Linked DNA regions of Homo sapiens. The protein of the gene in region 1 interacts with the protein of each later gene in a biochemical or structural test. Each region holds a gene or a part of one and is shown in the gene's direction. Other genes may lie near its edges.

Evidence for each region.
Region 2: the proteins of SPI1 (region 1) and NFYA form a complex in vitro, tested with the Homo sapiens proteins (one study listed by BioGRID).
Region 3: the proteins of SPI1 (region 1) and ETS2 form a complex in vitro, tested with the Homo sapiens proteins (one study listed by BioGRID).
Region 4: the proteins of SPI1 (region 1) and ETS1 form a complex in vitro, tested with the Homo sapiens proteins (one study listed by BioGRID).

What each region holds. Positions count from the first base shown.
Region 1 is NC_000011.10:47,368,541-47,375,563, reverse strand, and holds part of SPI1 (transcription factor PU.1), read left to right. Parts: intron 1-7,023. UniProt on the Homo sapiens protein: Pioneer transcription factor, which controls hematopoietic cell fate by decompacting stem cell heterochromatin and allowing other transcription factors to enter otherwise inaccessible genomic sites.
Region 2 is NC_000006.12:41,089,964-41,096,986, forward strand, and holds part of NFYA (nuclear transcription factor Y subunit alpha), read left to right. Parts: intron 1-240; coding exon 241-346; intron 347-1,564; coding exon 1,565-1,731; intron 1,732-2,948; coding exon 2,949-3,122; intron 3,123-4,432; coding exon 4,433-4,534; intron 4,535-7,023. UniProt on the Homo sapiens protein: Component of the sequence-specific heterotrimeric transcription factor (NF-Y) which specifically recognizes a 5'-CCAAT-3' box motif found in the promoters of its target genes.
Region 3 is NC_000021.9:38,800,958-38,808,928, forward strand, and holds the start of ETS2 (protein C-ets-2), read left to right. Parts: upstream 1-4,971; 5' UTR 4,972-5,013; coding exon of another isoform or gene 5,014-5,163; exon of another isoform or gene 5,164-5,851; intron 5,852-6,479; exon of another isoform or gene 6,480-7,971. UniProt on the Homo sapiens protein: Transcription factor activating transcription. Binds specifically the DNA GGAA/T core motif (Ets-binding site or EBS) in gene promoters and stimulates transcription.
Region 4 is NC_000011.10:128,584,536-128,591,506, reverse strand, and holds the start of ETS1 (protein C-ets-1), read left to right. Parts: upstream 1-3,948; 5' UTR 3,949-4,019; exon of another isoform or gene 4,020-4,830; coding exon of another isoform or gene 4,831-4,867; exon of another isoform or gene 4,868-5,167; intron 5,168-6,578; exon of another isoform or gene 6,579-6,971. UniProt on the Homo sapiens protein: Transcription factor. Directly controls the expression of cytokine and chemokine genes in a wide variety of different cellular contexts. May control the differentiation, survival and proliferation of lymphoid cells.

The sequences.
Region 1 (7,023 bases):
AAGAATAAATGATTCCCAGGACTTCTTTGGAATTCTGAGAATCAGATCAAGTTTGCTCTCAAAGGCAGTGAACTGCAGCATCATCGCTGCACCCCCACACCTGAGCCTCCATTATGGAGCCTCTGCAGTGTGTCAAGGTGCGGGGTTCATTTCTTCCATGGTTATCTGCTGGTTCTGTCCTTGTGGTCTTCTTTATAAACAAGGAAACAGGCTTAGGGTGCTAGGAGACTTGCACAAGGTCACACGGCTGCTGGGTGGAACCCAGGTCTGTCCGCTCCAGGTCCTGTGCTTTTTTTTCTGCCCCTGCCTAACTACCCACCTCCTCCTCTCTGTTCTCGTCACTCTCTGTCCCAAACTCCCCGCCGGCACATCCGCACTTCCTGCCATGTGTGGTTGGCAGGGTTTCCTAACTGTGGCACTGCTGACATTTTGGGTGGGATGATTCCTGGGTGGGCTGTCCCGGGTACCGTAGGAAGCTTAGTGGCATCCTTGCTTCTACCTACCACATGCCAGGGCCATGGCCAATCATGACAACCAAAAATGTCTCCACCCATTGGCAGATCCCCCCGGGAGGCAAAATCACCCCTAATTGGGAACTGCTGGGCCGAAGGAAAACCTATGAGAACCTCTTGTTCAGCAGAGGCCGAGGCCCCCAGTTTGCTGAAGTGGGAGGAAGAGGCCTGGGCCAGGGTGTCCTTCTGTCTGTCCAGTCCTTCTGGGTCTGACTGTCTGCCCCATAGCCCAGCCTCCGTCCTGGAGCAAATTCAGGGGATGGGAGAGAGGCATTAGGTGCCTGGGACCTGAGCAGGGGGCTGCGGGAGGTTGCCCAAAGTGGATCTTGGCTTATTGATGTAGACATCCCTGACCCAAAGCGAGGTGGCCTAGTCAGTGGGTGAGTCGTCACTGGGGAATTCCTCAGGGCGTCTGGGACCCGGGCAGACCAGCGACTGGGGTGTCTGCACCTCAGAGGGCAGAGGCCCACAGCCTAGGAAGGTGTCACTCCTGAAGGCCACCCCTGCGGCCAGTCATGCCTGTAGCTCCATTCTGCAGATGCACCTGTGGCGGTCTAAACCTGATGGGCCCAGCTAGGGATCCACATGTGCCTGGTCCACATTTAGGGCCCCAGATTCATCCGGAACTCAGACTGGAAGCCATATCCCAGGGGTAGGCGGATATGCCTCCAGGCCACAGCTGGGAACGCACAGGCATCTTTTAGAATCTTTCAGGGCTAGAAAGCCTTTAAAATATCCTTTTTAATTCCTTCAAGCTTATTTGTAATTATGTAAAAAACACATCCTCTTGGTGGGAAACCCAGGCAATGTAGAGAGAAAGTCCCCCTCCCCCAACTCCATCCCCAGCTCTCCCTACCAGAGTGAAGAGCCCGGTCTGGGGGACCCAGAGACCACGCACCCACCTTCCCAAGCGGTTCCAGGACTCCAGGAGGTCCCGCTGGGCCCTGGGACAGGCGCCCCCTGGTGGCTCGGGTCACCACAGACAGTGCTGTCAGGCCTCCTCCAACAAGGACGCATTCTCCCTGGCCCAATCCCTCTTCAGTTCACTGGGCTTGGGTGCGTTTCCTTTGGGCCTTTTGCAGCCTCAGTTTTCCTTCCTGTAATATGAGGGCGCTGCCCACATAGCTGGAAACCAGTGAGCCTGGGGCTGGGCCTGATGGAGTGAGCACTTTAGAGAAAGCATGTGTTTTCGTGGCTCAGGGTCCAAGCAGGTTCCTTATATCTCAGGTGGGACTCTAGGAATGACTCCTGATTGGATGCCTGGGCACCCCATGTTGGTCATGAACCCCTAGTTCCTCCAGAGACTCCACCAGTGTTCCCAGGTGTCCTCGGCCTTGGCTCTGTCCCACTCTTAATCACTGCCAATCAGGGCATTTGGGCTGTCCTTTTCTTTTTTTTTTTTTTTTAGGACAGTCTTGCTCTGTTGCCCAGGCTAGAGCGCAGTGGCCCAATCTTGGCTCACTGCAACCTCCGCCTCCTGGGTCCAAGCGATTCTCTTGCCTCAACATCCCAAGTAGCTAGGATTACAATCGTGCACTACCATGCCTGGCTAATTTTTGTATTTTTAGTAGAGATGAGGTTTTACCATGTTGGCCAGGCTGCTCTCAAACTCCTGACCTCAAGTGATCCACTTGCCTCGGCCTCCCAAAGTGCTGGGATTACAGGTGTGAACCACCGCGCCCAGTCTGTCCCTTTTTTTTGATACGGAGTCTCGTACTGTCGCCCGGGCTGGTGTGCAGTGGCACAATCTTGGCTCACTGCAACCTCCGCCTCCCGGATTCAAGCGATTCTCCTGCCTCAGCCTCCCAAGTAGCTAGGATTACAGGCGCCTGCCACCACGCTCAGCTAATTTTTTGTATTTTTAGTAGAGACAGGGTTTCACTATGTTGGCCAGGCTGGTCTCGAACTCCTGACCTGGTGATCCGCCTGCCTCAGCCTCCCAAAGTGCTGGGATTACAGGCGTGAGCCACTGCGCCCGGCCGGGCTGTCCCTTTTTATACCCGCTGGAAGGTATCGTCTGAAGACTCAACCATAGAGACCCCCACACACTTCTGTCAATTCCTGCACGTCCTCTTTGTCCACATTTTTAGGTACTGAAGCTTAGTGAAAAAGCTTTGGCCCAGCCCTGGCTCCATCACTTACCAGCTGTGAAAACTTGGGGCAAGTAACATAACCTTTCTGAGTCCCTATTTCCCCATTTATAAAACTGACAGCATGAAAATACTTACCTCCTAGGGCTGTGATGATTCAGCGAGGTAAGGCATATAATCTCTGAGGTAAGGTAACGTGCAGAGGACGAGGCCCGTGCTAGCTTCACTGCATTCCTCAAGGCAGGAGGGACAAAGCGGCTGGGGAGTGGGAAAAGCACAGAGGGCTCTGTGAGAGACCAACTGGGTTATTTTCCACTGACCCAGGGGACAGTCAATCTGCCACCCACCCCCACATCCATGCACTCACCCTCCCATCCACCCACCTACTCGTCCATCCTGCCAGCCGCTTCCCATCTGATCCACTTTTCCTCCCTATTCCATCCATTAAATAGTTTCTGAGTATCAGACACTCTTGTAGGCTCTGGGGAGTCCATGATGAGCACCAGACAAGGCCACTGCTCTCACAGAGCTCACTCTCCAGCGAGGGGATGGGGACATAAGGAATTAAATAGGCTGGGGCGTGGTGGCTCATGCCTGTAATTTCAGCATTTTGGGTGGCTGAGGTGGGTGGATCACGAGGTCAAGAGATAGAGGCTATCCTGGCCAACATGGTGAAACCCCATCTCTACTAGAAATACAGGTGGTGGTGCCCACTTGTACTCCTAGCTACTTGGGAGGCTGAGGCAGGAGAATCGCTTGAACTCCGGAGGCGGAGGTTGCAGTGAGCTGAGATCGCGCCACTGAACTCCAACCTGGTGACAGACAAAGCGAGACTCCAGCAAAAAAAAAAAAAAAAGAATCAGACAAAGAGACCATTTTCTGCAGATGTAATGCGGAGTGTCTACATGGGGGGCTGCTTTCATTTGAGTGGTCAGGGAAGGCCTTTGAGGTGGCAGCTGAGCTAAGAGAAGGAACTCGTAATTCACATGTGACCATAGGTAGGGGAGAGGTATTCAAGGTAAAGGGAACAGAAAATGCAAAAGCAGAAAGGACCCTGACAGAGGACCAGAGAGGCCAGTGAGCACAGGGCAGGGGACAGAAAGGGAAGCCAAAGGGGTCAGCTGCTCACGCAGGGCGAAGGCCATGGCAGGCATTTGGATTTTATCATACACACCATGGGAAGCCACTGGGGAGTTCTGAGCAGGGAAATGACATGACCATGATCTGAATAACCTTCTGTGTATGTGTGTGTGCTGAAAATTTAAATACATTTACAATCTTTTTTTTTTTTTTTAAGACGGAGTTTCACTCTTGTTGCCCAGGCTGGAGTGCAGTGGTGTGATCTTGGCTCACTGCAACCTCTGGCTCCCAGGTTCAAGCGATTCTCCTACCTCAGCCTCCTAAGTAGCTGGGATTACAGGTGTGCACCACCATGCCCAGCTAATGTTGTATTTTTTAGTAGAGATGGGGTTTCACCATGTTGGCCAGGCTGGTCTCAAACTCCTGACCTCAGGTGATCCTCCTACCTTGGCTTCCCAAAGTGCTGGGATTATAGGCATGAGCCATCACGCCTTGCCTTTTTTTTTTTTTTTTTTTTTTTTTGAGATGGACTCTCGCTCTGTCGCCCAGGCTGGATTGCAGTGGTGTGATGTCAGCTCACTGCAACCTCCACCTCCCGGGTTCAAGCGATTCTCCTGCCTCAGCCTCCCGAGTAGCTGGAACTACAAGCGAGTGCCACCATGCCCAGCTAGTTTTTTGTATTTTTAGTAGAGGCAGGGTTTCACCGTGTTAGCCAGGATGGTCTTGATCTCCTGACGTTGTGATCCACCCGCCTTGGCCTCCCAAAGTGCTGGGATTACAGGCGTGAGCCACCGTGCCCGGCCTCCAGTCTTTCTATTCCAGTGCTATGTAAATGTACAAATGAAGATGTGGAATAGAGACTTAGAGCATTATTTATTGGCAAATATTTATTGAGTGCCTTTGATGTGTCAGGCAGCTTGATTTTTCAGTTAGAGATATATTTTATTTACTTGTACAATCAGAATTCAACTTTAGTCATTCACAACACACACACACACACACTCACATTTCTCCACACATCCCCAATTCATTACTCTATATGGTAACATTTGTTAAATCAGTATTTGAATTTTCCACTGTTATGACCATGTGGCTATTACTCACAGCTGAGCCACATGGCATCCTTTCTTTACCTGTACTTTCTCATATCCATATTTCTTTTAATTATTATTATTTTTTTATGAGACAGTCTCACTCTGTCGCCTAGGCTGGAGCACAGTGGCGCAATCTCTGCTCACTGCAGCCTCAGCCTCCTGGGTTCAAGCAATTCTCCTGCCTCAGCCTCCTGAGTAGCTGGGATTACAGGTGCCCGCCACCACGCCCAGCTAATTTTTGTATTTTTAGTAGAGATGGGGTTTCGCCATGTTGGCCAGGCTAGTCTTGAACTCCTGACCTAGTGATCTGCCCGCCTCGGACTCCCAAAGTGCTGGAATTACAGGCGTGAGCCACCATGCCTGGCCTTTTTTTTTTTCTTTTTTTTGAGACGGTGTCTCTCTGTGTTGCCCAGGCTGCAGTGCAGTGTGCAATCTCAGCTCACTGCAGCCTCCACTTCCCGGGTTCCAGCAATTCTCCTGCTTCAGCCTCCTGGGTAGCTGGGATTACAGGTGTGTGCCACCATGCCCAGTTAATTTTTATATTTTTAGTAGAGGTGGGGTTTCACCATGTTGGCCAGGCTGGTCTCAAACTCCTGACCTCAGGCGATCCACTGGCCTCAGCCTCCCAAAGTGCTGGGATTACAGGCGTGAGCCACTGTCCCCGGGCCTCATCCCCATATTTCTGAGGGGAAATGTAGCAAGGAGATAAGAACTCTTCTGAAACCAGGCTGCTGAAACTCATCCCCCATCTCCTCCATTGCTATCCGGGTGACCATGGGCAAGATCTCCAACCTCTCTGTGCCTCAACTTCTTCATGACAATACCAACTTCACAGGATGGCTGTAAGGACTGAACGAGCTACTGTATGTCAAATGCTTAGAACAGTGCCTGGAAATAGCAAATGTTTTGTACAGATTTGTTATCATGGTCGTCTCCTAAGAAAGGGTGTGTGGGAGGTGAGGTTTTTGTTGTGGTGGTGATGGTTTTATTTTGTGTTTTGCCTCATGTCTTTTATTCTATGCTGTCACTTAATTAATCATAGTTTGGCTGTGTATGGAAATCTAAGTTGAAAATCATTTTTTCCCTTAGAAATTGGAAAGCATTTTTCTACTGTCTTCTGGTTACTAGAGTTTTTCCTATGAAGTCTGATACCACTCCATGTTCCTTTAAATTTCTTTTATAATTAACCTAGCTTTTTGTTTGTTTCATTTGTTGTTTTTTTTTTTTCTCTCTCTCTCTTTTGTTTTCTTTCTCTGGAAGTTTTTAGTATCTTTTCCCAATGTCTCATGATTCAACTGAGTAAGCTTTTTAAAAGGTCACTCTGGGTGGAGAGCAGATGGAAAAGAGGCAAGAATAGGAGCTGGAAAAAAGAACATTGAGGAAACTATTGCAATAATCCAGGAAAGAGATGGTGGTGACCTGGACAAGGGTGGTGGCAACAGAGACAGAAAGGGGGGGACAGATTCAAGATAGACTTTGAAGGGCTTACAGGATTTGCTATTGTTTATTATGCTTTTTGTTTGTTTGTTTGCTTTTTTGAGACAGTCTCACTCTGTCACCCAGGCTGGAGTGCAGTGGCGTGATCTCGGCTCACTGCAACCTCTGCCTCCTGGGATCAAGTGATTCTCCTGCCTCAGCCTCCCGAGTAGCTGGGATTACAGGCATGCGCCACCACACCTGGCTAATTTCTTTGTGTGTATTTTTAGTAGAGACAGGGTTTCACCATGTTGGCCAGGCTGGTCTTGAAGTCCTGACCTCAGGTGATCCACCCGGCTCAGCCTCCCAAATAGCTGGGATTACAGGAATAAGCCACCATGCCCAGCCTATTACTCTTTTTAATTGTGGTAAAATACACATAATATTAACCATTTTTTAAACCATCTTAACCATTTCTTTACATTTTAAGTGTATAGTTCTGTGATATTAAATATATTCACGTTATCATCACCATCCATCTCTATAATTATTTTCATCTTGCAAAACGGAGACTCTGTATTCACTGAACAACAGCTCATTTTCCCTCCCCCCAGCCTCTGGCAGCTACCATTCCACTTTCTGTCTCTATGAATTTGCCTATTCTAGGTACCCCGCATGAGTGGATTCACACAGTATTTGTTCTTTTATGCCTTCATTTAGCATAATGTTCTCAAGGCTTACCCATTTACCCATGGTGTAGCACGTGTCAGCATTTCCTTCATCTTTAAGGTTGAATCATATTCCATTGTATGCGCGCGCCACGTTTTGCGC
Region 2 (7,023 bases), on another chromosome or scaffold:
AGGTGGGCATGGTGGCGCATGCCTGTAATCCCAGCTACTCGGGAGGCTGAGGCAGAGAATCGCTTGAACCCAGGAGGCGGAGGTTGCAGTGAGCTGAGATTGCGCCACTGCACTGCACTCCAGCCTGGCGACAGAGTGAGACTCTGTCTCAAAAAAATAATTTTTTTTTTTAAGGACTACATCGTTCTTTGTTAGTATCTTTGGGATCTGTTGAATTGTGTCATTACTTATTTCCTCCAGACACAGCAGCAGATTGCTGTCCAGGGACAGCAAGTGGCACAGACTGCTGAAGGGCAGACCATCGTCTATCAACCAGTTAATGCAGATGGCACCATTCTCCAGCAAGGTAAGTGTACCCATAAGCTTCCCTAGGACTTTTTGGGGCAACTTTTTTGTCCCTTAGACAACTGACATCTTTAGAATTTGAGTGGTGAACTTGACACTACATATTTTTTGGACAAAAAAAAAAAAGATTTCCTCTAGCTCTCCATTGATTGTTGGTTTCTTGTCACCATCTGTGACCAACAGTGATTCCATGTGTAGCAGTTTCTATAGTGGTTGCTAATCTAGGGATTGTGTAAGCTTTTAGGGAAGAAGTGTTTCTAAACAGAAGAATAGAAATAGGGAGTTCATTGGTAAAGAGAGAAATAGATCAAAAATCAAGTTGGCTTTAGAGTGCTATTGCTGCTTATGTTTTTTTCTGGGTCATTCCATTACTTTAAATGACTATTATGTATACAGCACTTTTACTAAGAAGGGTCCTCAAAGAGCCTCTAGTCTAGTAAGAAAGACGTGAACAAATAAATACAATGCAGGGCCCTCATGGAAGTATGTTCTAGGAATAGATAACATAAATAATAGATGTTTGGTCTGGGAGGAGGAGTGCAGAAACTGAACTTGAAGGCTTTTGGAAGCACCTGTTAGTCAAATAGTTAAATCAAAAAAGGACATCTTTGTTAGATTCCATGACTTTGTGATTGCAAATTTGCAATATACAGGATCCAGAGAGTGCACTAACTGTGTGCTCTTGTATTACTCCAGGGAGGCCCTGAACTGGATTGAGCCCAGGCAAGAGCTCAAACAGAATGGTGAACAAATCCTCAAGTGCTGCTATTGATAGTCTGGGGACTTGGAATGCTTGGTTTAATTTTAAGTTTTAATACTACAACTGACTCATTGTCAGTTTGAGATAAACAAAGTATAAGTTTTAAAATCTCTGTCCTGAAGCAGATTGCTCATTATGTACAAGAGCAGTAGGTATAGCTGTAGTCAGACTGACCTGTAGAAGAGGAGGCCTCCAAACCTTTTCACCTTTTGAAAACTGCTAAGGATAGAGTTACTCAAAACTGGGACCTAGACAGTTAATAGAATTTCAAAGATTGTGATTACTTAGATTATATATAGCACACCACAGTGGGAGAGTACTTTTTCTCCCCTTGTGTTTTTCAGTGTGTTTTGCCAGGATCGGTGAGTGTATACCAGATAGAAGAGGGACTAACTATGTTCCCTTCTTTCTGTTCTGTGTGCCTGTTTTTTGTTTGTTTTATGTTTTGTTTTCTTAAAGTTACAGTCCCTGTTTCAGGCATGATCACTATCCCAGCAGCCAGTTTGGCAGGAGCACAGATTGTTCAAACAGGAGCCAATACCAACACAACCAGCAGTGGGCAAGGGACTGTCACTGTGACACTACCAGTGGCAGGCAATGTGGTCAATTCAGGAGGGATGGTCATGGTAAGAAAATGTATTTTTCAGCTTTGTCTTTGAAATTTTCTTGAACATGCAACTTGATGCCTCCTAAAATTTATTATGTTGACCTCTTGGGATTGAGATCGATCCTTAAGGCACTGTCGGTAATCTACTTTGACAATAACATTATGACAAACCATAATTCATTCTGAGCACCTACTATGTGCCAGGGACTATTCACCAGGGACTATTCTAGATGCTGGAGATAAAGCAATGGATAAATAGTGATTTTATGGAATTCTTTTCAGAATTCAAATAACGAAGGGAATTATATACTAATCTTTGAGAAGTGGAAAGTAGTATTGCCCATGATGGACAAAATAAGAAATAAGCTAAAAATTAGAAAGATTGTAATTGATAGAGAAACCAAAAAAAAAGTGTCATGTAAATGTATTGGGAAGATAGGAAGATTTGGGTGGTGTAACTGAAAGCTAAATCCTCATATGTCAAAATAGGATGTTAAAATGCATAAATTAAGAATGAGTAACAGAAGTCTGCACAGAGGTGGAGGAAGCTATGAAAAGAAACAGAACCAACCCTGGCTCAGTGGCATGCACCTGTAGTCCTAGCTACTTGGGAGGCTAATCCAGGAGGATGGCTTAAGTCCAGGAGTTTGAGCTCAGCCTGGGCAATGTAGAGAGACCTCGTTTCTACGAATTGAATGAAAAATAAATAATTTTTATAAAAGATTCAATACAGTTATTCAAAGCGGTTGTATTTGGGAAAGAGCTGTGGGGTACAGGACTCTGTTACTTGTTTTTACCTACATTTAGTACAGTGTTTTGGTGTTTTTTAAGAAAAATTAGGATTGAATTATAAGTTAACTATTATTTTTATAAATATAGGCATTTAGTAGCACTTGGTCTATCTATTTTTGTGCTGTTTTTTTGTCTTATGACTACTGTTCCTGACCATTAGATGGCAGCAGAAATATCTAGAGCCATGGGTGGACATGAATTAGGGCATGGTTATATAGTTTCTCAGAGTGGCACCTGAATCTCCTATGACACAGTCATCTGGGGTGTTTGTTTAAAGTGCAGATCTTTAGTATAAATTTCTCCAGGGATCCGCATTTACCCAAGTACCCTATAAAAATTACTTTTTGTGGCATTTACAAAAAAAATGGATGAAGAGGAACCAAGAAACTGTTTCTATGTCCATACTTCATGCCACCAATAAGCTCTGGTTTCCTGTTCACACAGATGGTTCCTGGGGCTGGCTCTGTGCCTGCTATCCAAAGAATCCCTCTACCTGGAGCAGAGATGCTTGAAGAAGAGCCTCTCTACGTGAATGCCAAACAATACCACCGTATTCTTAAGAGGAGGCAAGCCCGAGCTAAACTAGAGGCAGAAGGGAAAATTCCAAAGGAGAGAAGGGTATGTATAACATTGGGAAGGATATAGGAAAGGAGAATAGCAGGGTTCTACTTTTGAAATTATCTTTTATATGGCTTGTTTTCTCACGTACCTTCCAAACAATTGACGTTAGATACTTGTTGTCTCTTTTGTAAGAGTTAGCATTTGTTATTACTAATATGCAGCTGCAGTTATAATAACGAAAACAAACAGTGGCTTAAATAAGATGTTATTCCTTTTCATACATAAAAGTAGTCCAGAGATAAATTATCCTGGACTGGTAGCACATTTTCACAGTTCTCAAGACCTGTTTCACTGCTTTAATATTGCTAGTGTGCTGTTCATGGTCCAAGATTCCTGCTTAGGCTCCAGCCTAGGAAGAAAGGGAACAAGAAAGGTACCCTTTCTTTTTTTTTTTTTTCCTGAGACTCAGTCTTGCTCTGTCATCCAGGCCGGAGTGCAGTGGCACAATCTCAGCTCACTGCAACCTGCACCTTCCATGTTCAAGTGATTCTCCTGCCTCAGCCTCCTGAGTAGCTGGGATTACAGGTGTGCGCCACCACGCCCAGCTTATTTTTGTGTTTTTAGTAGAGACGGGGTTTCACCATGTTGGCCAGGCTGGTCTCGAACTCCTGACCTCAGGTGATCCACCTGCCTGGGCCTCCCAAAGTGCCGGGATTATAGGCGTGAGCCACCATACCCGGCCAGGTACCCTTTCTTTCAAGGAAACTTTGAAGAAGTTGTGTACCTTCCACTAGCCGGAATTTAGTTACCTGATCACACCTAACATGCAGATAAGGCTAGGAAAGTCCAGCCTGGTGTGGTGGCAAATGCCTGTAGTCCTACTTGGAAGGCAGAGGCAGGAGGATCACATGAGCCGAGGAATTCAAGGCTGCAGTGATTCATGATCATGCCACTGCAGTCCAACAGCAAGGGTGTCAGAGTGAAACCCTGTTTCTAGAAAATAATAATAATAAACTTTAATGCTAGGAAAGTCTTTTTACTGAACACTCATTTGCTCAAACGAAATTTGGCCTGTTATTAAAGCAGAGGAAAGTGTATATATTGTGAAGTGTAGGTGGTAGTCTGTTATTTTTTTTAAAAAAAATTCATACTATAAGCATTCACAGTCTTACAGTAGTTATATATGGTTAGCTATATTACTTACTAGGTGTTTTCTCCAAAGCTTCCATCGTCATTCTAAGTCATAATTGTCCCTTGTGACTTTGATCCCAGCTGTCTTAAACTTTGGAGAATGGAATTTGTGCACTAGATAACTGTGCTGGTTCTGGATAGTATTAATAGTTAAATGGTTTTATTTCTCGTTTTAGAAATACCTGCATGAGTCTCGGCACCGTCATGCCATGGCACGGAAGCGTGGTGAAGGTGGACGATTTTTCTCTCCAAAGGAAAAGGATAGTCCCCATATGCAGGTAGGAAGACATATACATTTTATTCTTCTCTTTATTACCTTGTATTGACTTGAGTTGAAGCCTTCAGCAGTGTCCTCTTGCTATTTTCCTACTCTGGGACTACTCACATTCTCTAAACTGGATGCAATCTTATGTCTCTTTAGATTATCTTTTATCTTAAAACCACTAGGCCAGACTTGGTGGCTCATGCCTGTAATCCCAACACTTTGGGAGGCTGAGGTGGGAAGCCCAGGATTTCAAGACCAGCCTGGGCAACATGGCAAAACTCCATCTCTACAAAAAAATACAAAAACTAGCCAGGCCTGGTGATGCATGCCTGTAGTCCCAGCTACTTGGAGGGTTGAGATGCTCTTCGTCTTTGTCACTTATTACTATTCATTCTTTCTTGAAAATCACACTTTTCTTAATTTTCAAGGAACAAGTTTTATTTTTATTGAACAGGTTTTATTACCCCATCACAAATATAATTTGAATGTTTACTTTTTTCCCTTCTAACTGATGTGAGCCTGGTCTAATCCTCTCTTCTTTGGCTTAGATTTATAAAATAGCTGCTTAATTTGGTTTCCCTTCTTCCACTTTTGTTCCCCTCTAGCCTACTCTCCACATCCTAGTGTGATCTTTTTAAAATGTTTATCCTATCAAGTCCCTGTTCTGCTCAAGCTCCTTCAACCCCTACCCTTTCCCATTTGCACTTAGACTGACATCCAAAGTGCTTACTACTATGCCCAGCAAAGCCTTACATGCTCCAGCTCCTGTCTACCTCTAACTGCATTTCTACTTCTTGGTCTCTATGCTGCTGTTTACTGTTCATTGGTCTACTTCCTGCCACGGGTCTTTGTCCTTAGAATTTTCAGTCTGTATGCCCTTTATCTTTTTCATGCATGTCTATCTCCCTATCTGTTAGGTCTGGGTTTAATTAAATACCCTATCTAGAATAGATCTCTTCTCTCTCAGTATGTTCTTACAACATCTTTTCTTTTTTTGGAGGCAGTGGTGTGATTATGGCTCACTTTAGTCTTGACCTCCCAGCTCAAGTGATCCTCCCACTTTAGGCTCCCGAGTAGCTGGGACTATAGCCACGCACCACCATGCCCAGCTAATTTTTAAATTTTTTGTAGAAATGGAGTCTCACTTTGTTGCCCAGGCAGGTCTCAAACTCCTAGGCTCAAGCGATCCTCTCGCCTTGGCCTCCCAAAGTGCTAGGATTACAGGCGCACACCATTGCACTTGGCCCTTTTCTTTACAGTGTAATAATATTTAAGTTGTTGAATTTTTCAAGATTGTTTCCTTCACTAGACTGTAAGTTGTATAGAGGGTAGAGGATTGTTTCGTTCTCTGTTATATTTATTGGACTTAATTCTATTTAAGTAAGTTGTATTTAAGTACTGACTTAGATGTATTTGTTGGGTTTAGTATCCAGTTCTGAACCAAGCAATCAGTGTTTCTTGAATTAATAGATTCCTCCCATTTGCTGATACTCCATTCTATATTAACATCACATTCCACTTGCACTATTGCAATATCCATCAAATTAATCTCCAGTCTCCTCTAATTGGCCTTATATAGTACTTATACAGTACATGGTTAAAGTGTTTTTTTTAACCTGCCAGTCCCCAGGTCAAGGATGCATGCTATTAATAGTTCTCATTTCTTAACTGCATCAAATCTCAAACTATTTCTGTATAACATCTAAGCAACTTTGCCTTATCACCCCCTCAACAATCAAACTAGGTTTCCTCAGTGTCCCCACACATGAACACTAACAACTCTTTCAGTGCTATTAATCCTCACCTGTAGTGTGAGAGCCCCTCCTTTCTCATTGCTATTCATTCATAACGGTGTATGAATGTGGGCCTGACAGCTATTGTGGCAGGAGGGCATTGTGCCAGGAACTCTCCTCATTCTGTGTGCTAACAATATGATCTTGGTCAATTCAGCCTCTTTTATTTTTATCTGTAAAGTGGAATACTGTTGATACTTCACAGCAATGTTGTAGGGATTTCATTCAGTAATCCACATTAGGCATCTGTGTAGCACCATACCTAGTGCATGGTGAGTTCAGTAAATGCTAGTTGTTTTTGCTCATTGTTCAAGACCCAGTTCCAGTCTTCCATCTCCAGAAGGCTTTCAGCTTTTTCTCAGATCCTGCCTACCAAGGCTTCAGAGCCTTGGTATGGGGGAACTAAAGGTGGTTCTTGCGGAGTGTTGCAAAAAGCTTCCAAGGATTTATCCTTGTGTTAACACGGTAGGTCTTAAGTGAGAAACAGCATATAGAGTTTAGTGGAAAGAAGATGAAATGGGAGTCAGGAGATTTGGGAGTTAGCCCTTGCTGGACTCCTAACTTTCTGACCCTGACCCTAGTCCACGCAAATCACTTTACCCATCTGGCCTTCAGATTTATCTGTAAAACGAGTACATTAAAGTGTATAGATTCTAATGATTCTTTCTAGCCCTGCTAAGTACTCAGTATTTAAATGATGATCAAAAAA
Region 3 (7,971 bases), on another chromosome or scaffold:
GAGTGGAGGTGCTGGCCCTCCTCTGGTTCTTCAACCTGCACCAAAGGGGCATGTCCCAGGTGGTGACCACTGGAATTTAGAGGTAAAGGCAGCATTTGCCTGGAGCAGAGAACACGAGGTGAGGCGGGATGACTCTACACCACAGCCATAGATAAGAGGTACTAATAGCTCAGTCGGTCTGAAAGAGACACACTTAAAGTCATAAATGGGAAGACGTGGGTGGAAAGTCTTGCAGCAATTGGAAAGCCATTCCACCAAAGACGTGTTATAACTTAAAAATATTCCAACTTCTGAATGATTTCTTTATACACCTGCTTAAGTCGGTGACATTATTCAGCCTTAACACTTTAATCCAAGTTTTATTTTGTCACCAAAATGTGAGTTAAGCTAACTTAATCATTTGCTAGACTGACTGGCACAGGAATGACTAACTCTTGGTTTGTGTGAAGACTAGTGGTTCAGTTTTCTAGTTAGCAAAATACATAAGCCGATGCACTGAGGATTATTCAGTTCCATGCATACTGTTGGAATCATTTTGTGATTCAGACAAAAACACACAACTATAAAATCATATATCTGTACACGTCTGACTCAGTTCAGACACATTTATTTAGGGATTATCAGTTTTACAGAATACAACGGGTCGCTATTACTATTTTGGTTGTTCAGACTTGCCTAAAGCACGTCACTGTGCAGTTTGATATCATGGTGGATTTTCAAGCGGTTTATACCCTCCCAGAGTACTGCCTTATAAGGGAAAATGACTGTGTCAGGGTGGCAGTGTGCTGGACGAGGGGGCAGGAGGCCTGGAGTGTGGCCCCAGCTTTGCCAGGAAATAGGCATTTGACCCTGGGCAAGGAATTGATCCTCCCTGGGTCTCAGTTTCTGCATCTTACAAACCAGAGTTGGTCTGAGCCATCAGCTCTCTGAAGTTTTTTCCAGTTTTAAAATCCAATGTTTCATTTTCTCGTTTCTGACCACCAAAGGCAAGAAAAACATAGTCAAAGACACCATGGTTCCCATTGACAGCACTGGGATTGATTTTATACCTTGTTGTCAACCAAAAGTGCCAGTGCAGGGCAGCAGTGATCAGCGATGCCCGCAGGAGACCAAGACTTCCAGGGCCAGGGGACCTGCTACTTATTTATCACACACTTAATGACACGCCAGACACTGTTCTAAGTGCTTGGGAGACATTAACAGAGGGAGGCCCCGAGGGGCCCACAGGTGGCCTGCTAGGGAATGGCTGGGCGGGATTTGACCCCAGGCAGTCTGGGCCCACAGGCTGCCCTTCAGAGGTGAAGACGGTAGCCCTAGCTGGGTAACCATGTCTTCATGCCCACAGGGAGTGCAAGGGACAAAGGAGGCTGACAAGGAGCAGAAGGAATTAGAAAGGAGCATTAGCAACGTTTTTGACCACCAGCAGAATACCCTATCTGCCATTCCAAGGAATCTCACAGAAAAGACTAGACACTGGCCAACTCTTGCATAATCTGGGTCCACCCTGATGGAGCAGGAGGCAGCTCCACGGCCCCACATCTGCCTAGGATTCTTGGTAGCTGGGCCAGCCTGCAAATGGGCAAGGTTGGTTGGATTCGGAGGTGGGCGGAAGTGTGGGTTAAGCTTATCAAGTCCTTGACCCCAACATATATCAGTGAAATAGCCACCACTGCCAGACACCCCAGCAGGCCAGATGCAGGCGGCAGCTTACACATGAGGAAATGATTTCTATCTCTAGGTTCATTCTTTTCTTCCTCCACTCCTTACCAAAGTCTCACTGTGCATGTGATTTTAACTGAACTGTGCACTTCACTTTTACTTCTTGAGGGCGGGAACTAACTAAGCCTTAATCATATTTGTCTTCTCAGCATCTGACTCTGTGTTTGCTAAGTGAATGAATGATGCACTTCGGACCAAATGACGTCTGTTTAACTTGCAACTGGAAACCACCACAAACTGCCTGTTGACTACTGATTTGGATTTTAAGGTAAATACAGACATGTTTCTAAGGAGACGTTTTTGTGTGTGTTTTTTTTCAAAGGATGACTTCGTAAGCTAGCTAATCATTTCTCATAATTATGTCTGGATTCTAAAGAATTCTTTTTCTGCATTTTACTCTCTAGATATTTCATGTTCGTAACACATATATTCTACTGTAATATCCCTTTTCCTCCTCTCTTCTGTGAATGTCCCTCTTTCTTAAGGGGAAAGTGTTAACATTGCTCATAACTCAGTCTGCCATAGCGCATCTGATCACTCCACCCTGTGCACCTTCTGACTTTTAATTTCCTTCCAACACCCTCGACTTTTGATCTCCAAGCACAAGGGCTATACTTTTATTTATTAGGTTTAATTTACTGTAAAGCTCATTGTTCCCTGTGAATCGCACGATAACAGTCAATGAATAATCACTGGCTTCAGCCAGACTGCTTTTTAATTCTGCTGAGTAACTGGCAAGCCAACTAGTATTAAGGACAAAAATGTAAGGAACCCTGATATTGCCCCAGAACTAGGATAAGCCATTTTATTATGAACATGTGACTGCCCTCGTGCAGAGGTGGATCAGCTACAGGGCAGGACCCAGGGCAAGGGGGCTGCTTGGGGCAGCCTCAGACTCTTTGGAAGGGGAAATAGGGAGGACCAGGGACCTGGGTGGGAGGCAGGAGCTTAGGCTTACGATGACCCCAGCACACAGGCCCAGCTTCCTCTTCCCACAGCCTCCCTGCCGTCTTAGCTCTGCCATTTGGTCTTCCGGCCGGGATCCCTTTCCCAAGGCTTTCACACATTTAAACCCGCGAGGGGCAGGACTTTTTTTTTTTTTTTCGTGTATATGATAGTTTTTTCAAAATGTTTTCTATAAAATCCTCCCTGAGGAGAGCTTGGAAAAAGATTCTTAATAGCTAGATCATTTTGAGTCCTTCTCTACCATGTACTCAACACTCTAACATATTCTGCACATTTGGTTCTATGTCATTTGCCATAGTCTTAAGGACGTAGGTTCCATAATCATCCCTTATTCTGTAGAGGAGGCCCAAGGTTAGTGAGCAGAGGAAGGTTCCACTGTCGGGAACCGGTGGTCTTCAAACTCCTGTGCTCCTCTTTTGATATCTTTCTGCTCATATATGTTGGAAACAGCCCAGCATGAGCAAAGCACCACCTCCTAGCCCCCAGCCTGTGCCAGCCCTGCAAAGAGGAAATATGGCTCCACTCAGGGAGCCCATCAGCGACTCAGGGAGCCCTGGAGCACCTGGCACTCAGCACCCATGAACACGAGGGCAGGCATGGTGGGACAAGGCAGTCTGCTTGGGGCAAGTGAGCTTCGGGAAGTAGCTGAGCTTTGGGGAGCAGCTGTCTATACCCAGCTTCTCAGGGCTGTGCAAGTAGCCTGAGGGAGAAAGACCCTATATTAGCTGAAACTGCAGCCCAGATGAGTCAGTATTTTCTGCTACGGTTTTTTAAAAAAATAGTAACATACTCATGTCTCCATGGTAACTTACTATGGATCTGTATTCCATTTATGGAACTCTTTCTTGACCTATCTGTGTTCTCTAATCTGGGCCTGAATATACACTGAGAAGCCATCAGAATCAATTCAGTCTCCAAGAAATAATCACTTCCCCTATACGTGATTGTTTCAGCCGTATAGATTCTGACTGTGACTCATGCCACGGTGATACCCGGAGACCTTCGGGGACCCAGAAACATTAAGGTGCACCGATATCTCAATTATCCGGATAACTCTAGACCTAGAGTCACCATGGAAACCTAGAACCCTGAGTCACAGAGAAGCTGGGCCATTCCTCTCCCTTCCCGGTGGTGCCGCAGTTCTTGAGATGTGAGCAGCTTTCAGCCCCGTGGCCTCGCCTAAGCTGGGGTTTCCTATTTCATCCACAACTTCAGGAATCTAAACTTTCCTGCAAAATATTGAGCATGTGACCTGAGTCCAAACAGCCATGGACTCAAGCACCTTCTGATAAAAACGGAAACCACAGTGTAGGGGGTGGTTTTGACCAGGGTTTCGGAGTCAGATAAACTCAGGTTTCCACCTTGAATTTCTCATCAATCTGACGTGGCAGGTTATTCATCCTAAGGTTCAGTTCCCACCTGTGTAAAGTGGGAGCCGCAAGTCCTCCGAGAGTGACGATGATGTGCGTGGAGTGCCCAGCCCAGATTGAAGCGCGGCCAAGGCGGGTCGCTATCTGGGCACCGCTCAGCTCCAGAGGGCGCCACTCCCGCGGAGCCTGCGGGATCGGGGCTTCCCGGGAGCAGCGCGATCAGCACCACGACTCGGGGACACAGCCAGGGCCCGGTTTCTACAGGAAGCGCCTCATTTGGAGCCTTTTTGTGATAGAATGATCATTAGTCCTAAGCCCATTCAGAGGTTCAAGAATGGGGTCGGCTCAATTTCAGGGCCTTATTACCCAAGCCCGGCTGCCCTTCGGTGCCACCAGCACCACTGCTCCGTCGCTGCGGAATTCCAAAGGCAGGTTTGGCGTTAGGGCCTTGGCCCCAGAGAGGACGCCGAGCGCTCCACGGAAAGTCTCCGCCCGGCTCCCAGGGCGCACACTCGCGCGCACGTGGGGCCGAGGCCCTGCTCCCGGGGCCTCAGGGCCAGCCGGCGAGGGACCCAGCCGAGTGACAGCAGGAGGCGGAGGGAAGGTTGGGCCGGAAGGTGTCAGCCCCGCCCCGCGCTCCCTCGCCGCCTCCGCCCTCCTCTTCTCTCCCCTCGTGCGTTCCCTCTCCTCTCCCTCCGCTCCCCCAACCCTCCTGCTGCCCCCTTCCCTCTCCTCCCGCTTCTCCCCATCCTGCCTACCTCCCTTCCCCTCCTCTTCTCTCTCCTCCCCTTCCCTCCCCTCTCTCTTCTCTCCTCCCTCGTTTCCTCCCCTCCCCTCCACTCGGCCGTCCCTCCTTCCTCCTCCCTCCTCCCTCCTCCTCCCGCTCCTGAAGAGCGCGCCGCGTGGGGGACGGCCCGGTTACTTCCTCCAGAGACTGACGAGTGCGGTGTCGCTCCAGCTCAGAGCTCCCGGAGCCGCCCGGCCAGCGTCCGGCCTCCCTGATCGTCTCTGGCCGGCGCCCTCGCCCTCGCCCGGCGCGCACCGAGCAGCCGCGGGCGCCGAGCAGCCACCGTCCCGACCAAGCGCCGGCCCTGCCCGCAGCGGCAGGGTAAGAGCTGGGCCCGCAGAGAGCGCCCGGCGCGCGGCTCCAGTCCCATGGAGGGTCACCCGGGGCCTGGGCGGGGGTCGCGGGGGGCACTGACACGCAGATCTCGGGGCGCTGCCGGGGGTGCAGGTGGGGGTGGCGGCTGCTGCGAGGACTCTAGGGGCGCGCGTCTGAGTTCCGCGCCGGCTCGTTTTCCGGTTATGGAGTGGCCTCCGGGGCTGGCGGGGTCGGCCGGGGGGTTCCTGCGTGCTAGGGCCGCTGTCTTCGGGGTCGCCTAGCGGCGGGCGCGGCCAGGGCGCGCTGGCTTGTTTCGCTCGCTTTTGTTTTTAAAAGGAAACGCAGGCCTGGTAGGGGGTCCTGCCCAGTGGATGTCCCGGCGAACATGATTTCGCGAACGGGAGTGGGGGCACAGGAGAGCGTGTCCGAGGTGGCCTGGCGCCCCGGCTTTGAGGGTGACTTCCTGGAGCGGCGCCGGGCCCGGAGGATCTGGGGCGCCCAAGACACCTGAAGGCTGCGGCACCGCGGGAACCTGCGGGGCGCGGGGTGCCATGGTCACCTGCTCGCCGCGTCCAGGGCCCGGGCTGGGGACCCCTCGGTCGTGCGAGGAGAGCGTGGGGAACCTGTCGGAAATGAGATCTGGTTGCGCTGGGCTGCCTTTATTTTCTCGTTCCTACAGCATTTGAATGAAGAGGTAACTGAGTGTTTGCTTGTGTGTGTTTGGGTTGCGTGTGTGTTATCCTATTTTATTTTTTACGGCAGGAGACCTTTTATGTTAGCCTGTACACAATTTCAGGGTAGCCTAAAACAGTAGTTGACGCGCTAGTTATTTAGAAAGTAAAGAAATGAGCAGTCCCCTTTGGAGACAGGAGTAATTTATTTTAATTCGCCAGTAAGAGATTATATTTGTTCCATACAATGGAAGCGCCTGTGCGTTATCTGCCTGCCCACACCACCACCAATCAGAGAGATAAATCTCCACGTTAAGCTTTATTAAAATTCTGAGTAGTAGCGCAGCACAGTAAATGTTAGCACCGACCATCCGCAGGGAAATGCTCAGATACTCATTTCTGGGATTAGTCATTCATCTCTCTAAACTGATCGCTTTCAAAGCGAAAAAAGCAAACTACCTTCAAATGTGTGTTACAAGGTTGTGTTGTTTCTTTTTTTTGTTTGTTTTCAAATTTATCTAAATAATCTTACATAAGTGATTACTTGTTCCAATAAGGGTACTGTTGTCAGGCAAATTCTCCTTGTTTTTAAATGTAACCATTCTCAGCTGTTACATTTCTGCTCTTTATCCTTTTTTTTTTTTTTTTTTGGTTTAAAAGCAGCGATCCATCAGCAACACCAAACTTGAAATTGATTTATGTGGAAAAACTTGGCTTGTCTGCCATCTAACAAGCCCTGTTGAGTAAAATAAGCAAGCTTAAATTTGATTAGTTGTGTGTCTGCCTGAAACCATTTAGTAGAGCACTTTAATTCTGCATGGTTTTTACAAAACTCATTAAAAGCTGGACAACAAAAGAATTCTATTCTGTAGCTAGTAATTACAGCTCTTTATGTGGGAGTGGTAGGCTGCCTTTTCTCCTGGTATTTGTACACAAAAGCTGGGGAGAGCTTTTCCACTGCCTTCCACATTCATTCTCTGTCCATCTCAGAGAAGCTGAAAAACAGAATCAAGTCAGCAAGCAGTCTGCAAGCCTAAGGAAGAAAAAGAGCTGACCCATCCGGCTCTGGATGGATAACTGGCAACACCCAAGATGTCTATGATTTTGGCCTTCTGTTTGAGGCTTGTTTATTTCTTTAATCAGCAGCTACCAGGACTTATTTCATGCAGAGAAATGACATAAAGCTCTAGAGGAAGGAGCATTTCACATTGGAAGGAGTAGTGAGAAGGGCCTGATCTGATAATATCAGGATGGGTGGGAAGGGTCCATTCCTCATCATTCATGTTCTCCCGGCACAGAGGACTGTGTGGAGGACTCAGGATTTAGGACCATACTCAACTGGGGTTTGATCTCCACTTTGCCCTGCGGTGGCCCCTCTGGTAGCTATGTGGATCCTGGGCAGATTGTCCATGTTGCTGGGCCTCCGTTGCTTCACTGTATGACGTCTGCCTCTCAGGGATGCAGGAAGATTCAATTAGGTAGGAGTGGATGGTCCCCCAGCACGGGGCTTAGCTCTTAGTAACTAGGCATTCTGGCAATGGCAGCCATCAATAGGAGAGACTATTGATTGTTGAGTGAATATAAGTGGCATAATCCACCAAGTGGAGATTCTGAGTGAATGTGGCCACTTTGGACCCAAGACTGCTGCCCCTCTCTGTCCTCTCATAGGACTATTATTTATTGCCAGTGCTGACCAGCCTTTGTTGGCTACCATGATCATTACCTGCACTCCGAGTGTTTTAACAGAATTTTCTGATGCCTCTGGCCTCACCTGCTGCCTTTTAGCCAAGAGGGGTGTGTGTGTATGTGTGTGTGTGTGTGTGTGTGTGTGTTGGGTGTGTGTTGGGTAGCAGGGTTCTTGGAAGGTCTGGTTTAGCCATAATGTTGATCATAAAGAGAAAACAAGAAAATAAATGCAAATTAAATAGTTCGGTGAGCCTTTGTTATTTCGCCACATCCAGTAAGTTCTATCAGTTGAATGTTGTCTGAATTACTTAAAAAGTTCTCAGTTGTAAACAGGTAAGAGCACCCAGTGGAGGCCATGGAGCTAGGCTTAGAGCTTTGCCACCAGCCTTCAGTTCCATAGCCATGAACCTGGGAGGGCAAGGAATCACCCTAGAGGTGAAGGCCATTCATCGGTGCT
Region 4 (6,971 bases), about 81 Mb from region 1:
GATACTGGTTCTCTGCACATATGAAGTCTTCTGAATTATCACGAGGCTTTTTTCTGAGATGGAAGGAAAGTTAATATGGAAAATGCAATACGTGTGTAATGTTTTGCTTTGCTTTTCCTTAAATTTAATGCCATTTTTAATTTCAAACTTCACACTTTTCCTGCAGCGGGTGGTTTTACAGAATCATTATAAGTTGCTTTGAAGGGGACTTCTGCACTTTAGGGAGTTGGGGTGGCAGTGAGGGAAGGTTGCTGGTGGGAGCGTTGAAGACCTTTGCAGAGCTAAGATTCTGGGAATTTACTTCCATTTTTCCTCTTAAGACATACTAACTTACAAGGTAACTTGTTATACTGAGAAAAGGAAAAAGGTTTCCTTACAGTAAGAAAAGCTATTCTAGAAATTCCTTCATGCTCTGTCTCACTTGTATCCAAACTATATTGAGACTACGATTGTTTAGGTGAGGCTACAGAGATACTCCTTCAAAGAAGCAAACAACTCATTTTGCATATCCCTTTTACATGGGATCAAAAGGTACCCATGTCCCTGGATCACTGAGTTTTAATTTTTTCCTTGAGAATCATAATGGTCATATTGCCCTATCAATTGAGGTCTTTCCTCATAGAGCTATCTATGGACATGGGAAAGAAAAGCATTGCTTCTACTGTTTACACAGTCATCTAATCGCATGGTGATTTCAGCAACCCTGTGAAGTTGGGCTGGTATTACTACACCCTCTTCAAGAGCCGGCATAAGGGAGGGGCTGGGGAGCCACCACCGTGCAGTGGAGGGATCCTCCAGGGATTTCATACCTTCTTCTTCTAGAGCATCATTTTCTTTTGTCCTATATTATCCATGTGGATCAGAAAGCATTCCTTCTGCGGAAGCCTACTGACTTCTAATGCTATATATATATTTTTTTTTTCCCTCGGGACAACATATTCTTTTATTGTGGTAGAATACATGTAACGTAAAATTTACCATCTGAACAATTTTTAAGTGTACAATTCAGGGGCATTAAGTACAGTCACATGTTGTGCAACCATCACCCACATCCATCTCCATTCCTTTTTTATCATCCCCAACCGAAGCTCTGTCCCCATTAAACACGAATTCCCCATTCTCCTTTCTCCAACCTGTGTTAACTTCTATCCCTTTTTCTGTCTCTATAAATTTTACTATTCTAGGTACTTCATACAGGTAGAATTACACAATATTTGTCTTTTCTGTATTTGGTTTATTTCATTTAGCATAATGTCCTCAAGGTTCATCATACTGTAGCATGTATTGGAATTTCATTCTTTTTCAAGGCTGAATAATGTTCCATTTTCTGTACATACCACATTTTGCTTATCCATTTATCTGTGGATAAATAGTTGGGGTGTTTCTACCTTTTGGCTATTGTGAATAACGCTGTTATGAACAATATTGTGCAGACATCTTTTTGAGTTCTTCTTTCAATGCTTGTGGCTATATATGTAGAGGTTGAATTGCTAGATCAAATGGTAATTTTATATTTAATTGTTTTGAGGAACTACCACACTGTTTTCTACAGTGGCTGCACCATTTGACATTCTCAGCAGCAACACACCCTTATTCCTATTTCTCCTTATTCTTGCCATTATTTTCTGTTTCTTTGATAATAGGAACCCCAATAGATGTGAAGAGGTACCTCACTGTGGTTCGAATGTGCATTTCTCTGATGATTAATGATGTTGCCCTTCTTTTCGTGTGTTTATTGGCCATTTCTGCATCTTTGGAGAAATGTCTACTCATGTCTTTTGTCCACTTTTAGATCAGGTTATTTGTTGTTGTTGCTGTTGAGTTGTAGGAGTTCTTTATATATTTTGAGTATTAAGTCCTTATTAGATATGTGATTTGCAATTTTTTTTCTCATTCTGTGGACTTCCCTTTCACTGTCTTAATAGTGCCCCTTGATGTACAACATTTTAAAACTTTGATAAAGTCCAACTTATCTATTTTTTCTTTTGTTGCCCAAGTTTTTTTTCCTGGGATAAGCTGTCATATCCCAGGAAATCATTGCTAAATCCAATGTCATGAAGTTTTCTTCTTTGATTTTTTCTAAGAATTTTATAATTTTCATTCTTATGTTCAGATCTTTGATAGATTTTTGTTAATTTTTGAGTATGGTGTAAGGTAGGAGTCCAATGTCATGCTCTTATATGTGGATACCCATCTAATGTTATATTTTTGAAAATACTGTTTAAAACAAAACTTACTGTTTTCCTGGGCATTCTCTAGGCAATTTATGACAGTGGTGGCTTATTTTGCACTATTAAGATTTCTAGTTTATGTTCTTCCACACCGTAAAAGGCCGTGTCAGAGGAGGGAGCTAAGGTCCTGAAGAGTTGCTTTCTATATAAACTCAGCATAGACAACTCCAGACTTCAGAACCCCTTGACAGCCACACTGTACACCCTTATAGAGCAAGAATCCAAGTCTTCTCAACTTTGTTTTTTTCAATTATCCTGCAAACATAGTGAATACAGTTGTAATTAGTTATGATTGGTATAATTGACCGTGGGCTCTTTAAATGGGGCAGTGTGCTGAAATTGACTGGGTTACAGGGGCAGGCTGAAGCTTCCCTAGCTCTCTTCATAGACTTCTTTTGTAGCATGTATTACATTTTTGGGGGGAGATCGTTGATTTATGTGTCTGTCTCCTCACTACAATGCAAACTTGCTATCTTTCTAGTGCCTAGAACAGTGCCTGGCACAGGCAATTTATTAAACTAAAGTGAACCAATAGCATTACCTCTTCCTTACTTCCAAGTTAATGTGCAAAGGCAGAAGATGAGCAGTAAAATCTTGCTTTACTTACAATGTCATCTTAACTGCATTGCCAGCTTTATACAATGAAGGCTGATGATGATATGGCTCCAAATGACAGTTATTAGATTTTCAAGGATTTTCTAAGTTTGTATCTTTATTAAAAAGAGAAAGAAGCCAACTATGACAAATCTTAACTCCCACCTCCTACTCAAAGAAGATGGAATCTTTTAGGATAAAAGTCTTAGATTAAGCAGCCAAATACTGACTTCTCAAAAAAAATTGTAATAACTCCATTCATAGAAATGAGATTATGCTGTAACATTCTTACCATAGTCCTGAATATGTGAATAAAAGATGCTGTGTATTTTCACTTAGGACAGATGTAAGATTTTCATATTGTTTACATTTTCCCTAAATGAGAAATGTATGAACACTTCTGCCCTTTTATTCCTGCACCACGGACCATGAGTCAGGGCTGCTAAAAGTATCCTTATTTTAGAGATTGCCTAAAACCAGACTTATATGAAAAGGGGATTTTTAGCTTTACTTTTCAGAAATCCCAAGTCCATATCCAGTCAGCTCTCTTCCACAAAATTATTTTCTTTTCTTTAGAAAATATCACATTTCATATCAAGTTATTAGAGAGAAACGGGAAGCCTGAGCAGGTGACTGGGTGGTGGACGTCCTGTGTTTCTAAAGCAATCCCTTTCCCTCACCTGAGACCTTGCCTAGGTTAATGGGGGCTCCATTGAGAAAGTCAAGGAACATGAAGCATGAATATTTACATATTCAGCAGAGAGTAAATGCATCAGCAAATGATGAGGTGAGATACAGTGTTATCCCACTGAACTAGTTCCCTTTTGCTCATCTCCCTCCCTGTTACTCTCCAAGGCTGAGTTATATTCAGCTGAAGCACAATTTGAAGAATACGAAATAATGTGTGATTTGGTGCCACCACTGTCAATCAACAGTGCTTTCCACCTAGACTGCTGTGCCTGTGCCAGTGGCTGCTGTCCTGGTGCCAGGGGCAAGAGGAAGACTGCCTTTTTTCCAGCTTTCCCTGGCTTGACCACACCCCCCAATTTAAGGAGGCAGCTCTATTAGAAACATTATGGTCTTTGCATCCTCTTAAGCTACGGAGCAGAGGATTCCCGCAGGTAGTTGGAAAGAGACCACAGACTTTGAGGGAAGCTCACTCAGGATCTGCTCTCCGGCAAAGTAGTAAGTGAGGTGTGTGTCAGTTTCTGCCTAAAACTTTTCAGTCCATTTTCCTTTTCCTGCTTTAAAAAAATTTCTGTGGAATTAAAGAGTAAGTCGGTAGGGAGATTCAGGATACAAGTGAGTTTTCTCTTTCTCTTTTCACGTCTTTCTATATTCCCATTTAATTGTTTAACAATTTTCAAAAATACTTCCTAACCTCGTCAGAATAGTCTGAAAGCAAGACTATGTTTTTAAAAATGTTCCCTGCTTCACAAAAGTAAAACCATGCACGTTTTAGATACCCGTAGATTACTTGTCAGAAACCCTGATTTTTTTTTTTTTTTTTTGCAAATTGGAGCACTTCCAAAGAAATAAAGCTGTAGTTAAATATATAAATTTCTTTTTATTCTCTTTCACTCCTAGTAAATCTATTGTTTTACTTTTTTCTCCTGCTAGTAGTTTAATGAATTGCTTTTAATAGAGAGGAAATTGCTACAGGTTTGAATCTTGCTAGCCAAACTAGCCTGTTTGGTGTTTTTCTCTGTCTTGGGACTGACCTGCAGTTGTCCAAAGATCTACAAGTTCCTAAGTCTGTTGTTGAGACATGGTGTGGGTGTGGGCCGCGGTTGTCTCAGAGTTAGGGAGGTATTTCTTGTCCCCACGGTAGAGCTGGACTCAGTGGCAGGAGATGTCGATGGCAATTCCTCTGCATCCGGTGATTTTATCTGGCCGTGACACTTTGTATGTGACTCCTCACCCACCGTTAAAGGTCTCTGTTACCAACTTTTAAAGTAGTATTTTCTTCAGGCAAACTTAAAAGGGTGCTGGGTCACTGAAATCAATGCATTCTATTGCAGGATTTCTTTATCACCTTTTGGGTAAGTTTTTGTTTTTAATCTCAAGTCCATTTTCCTTCTTACTTTAGACCACTGCCATGCAACTGAGAAAAAAGTATTTGTTAAACAGCAGGAAATACCAATTCTAAAATGATAACTCCATCAGCTCCATTTGATTTGTAAAATTACTGATACTATAACTCTTTCATCAGTTGTGGTTTTGGGTTTGGTGGCCTATTTTTATCCAAAGAGAAAACGCTTTTTCTTCAGGGGCCGTGGGCTGTGCACAAGGGCTGCAGGGTGGCCACTGCTGCTGTTGAGAGTCTTGCTCACCTGTTGTTCCTGAATGGAGGGAAGGGAGAGCTAATGGGTTAATGTCTGCAAAGTGCTTTGAAGATGAAAAGGTCTTTTCATGTGTTCAGTAGTGCAGTTATTAATATTAATATTTGAAGAAGCATGCTGCTTCTAATTGTAAATCAACTACTTCCATCCTTGCCAACTCAATAGTGAAATAACAAACAGTTCAGGCATCCATGCAGCCTCTTCCGTCCTGGTTCCGCTGCTGAGGATGTGGGAAGCCAAGCCGAGAGCCTAATTATGGAGGGGGCATCTTTGCCCGGCAGGCTCCTTACACGGAGGTGCTAGTTGCTGGCTGTGAAAGGATGTCCTGAGGCAGAGCCTGGGGGAAGCTGGTAGAGGGGTGGGATCCTTTGGCATCTGGCAGTCTGTGGCCAGAGCACCGACTTGGGCCAGTGGCCGGTCCCGGACGATAATGGAGTTCAAAGGCAAGTGGGGTCAGAACTTGAACCAGCGCTGGGTCGGAGAAGGGAAAGTGGCTGTGCACTTGGATTATGTCAGTGATTAGCTTTGTAACAGAGAACAGGGATTGAACGTGTCTGTGCCTTCTTCCCTTCATCTCTAAAAGGTGAGCAATCATTTGCGCCCCGCCTGGTTTACAAATATGAGAGAATAGAAGTAAACAGCATAGGGCTATGAAAAATCAGAGTGCCAGTGAGGTCAAGGACTGTCTGAAGTAATACTTCAACAAACTGGGTGTGTGGGTGCAGGTCCTCTCACCTAGGGGAGGGTGAGGCAGAAGGCAAAACACTGCAAACAAATAATCAACAGATTTCTCTCTTTGATTGCACTGGTGAATTTCTTACTGATAACTGAGGTTCTGATGTACCTTGTGATTTTAATTATTGGTGAATAGATCTGTTTTCCATAGTGACTATCATTTTCTAATTACCAGTTCAAAATTCCCAACTGTTCACATCAAACAGCAGAAGGGAATGATTACGTCCCACGAGCTGGGACCCTTCCTTCCTTCCTTGCTTCCTTCCTTCCTTGCTTCCTTCCTTCCTTCTTCCCTCCCTTCCCTCCCTTTCTATCTTTCTTTTCTTTTCCTTCTTTCTTTCCTCCCTCCCTCCTTTCTTTTTCTTTCTTTCTTTCTTTCTTTCTTTCTTTCTTTCTTTCTTTCTTTCTTTCCTTCCTTCTTTCTTTCTTTCTTTCTCTTTCTTTCTTTCTTTCTTTCTTTCTTTCTTTTCTTTCTTTCTTCTTTCTTTCCTTCCTTCCTTCCTTTCTTTCTTTCCTTTCTTTCTTTCTCTTTCTTTCTTTCTTTCTTTCTTTCTTTCTTTCTTTCTTTCTTTTCTTTCTTTCTTCTTTCTTTCCTTTCTTTCCTTCCTTCCTTCCTTTCTTTCTTTCTTTCTTTCTTTCTTTCTTTCTTTCTTTCTTTCTTTCTTTTCTCTTTTTTCTTCCTCTTTCTTTCTTTTCTCTCCCCTCCTTTCTTCTTCTTCTCTCTCTCCCTCTTCCCTCCTCCTTCCCTTTCCTCCCTTTCTTTCTTCATTATGGAAATGATAAAGTATTTAGCATTTGAGCAAAATTAATGTGGTATGCAGCAATTTAGTGGCATTTCAGGCAAATCTTTTAAGTTTCTTCAATCCTGGGAAAAATTAGATGTGAAGACATAACTTACTTTTTGCTTCCTCATCTCCTTTATCCCTGCTGTACTGAAAGTATAGCTTATTGAACTCCACCTTTTAATGTAGATGATTTTCTAGTTATCATATCCATTCTTCTTCATTTCACCTAAGGAGGAATACTCAGCCCTAACGTTTACTGAGCACTTGGTATGTTCCAACATCCT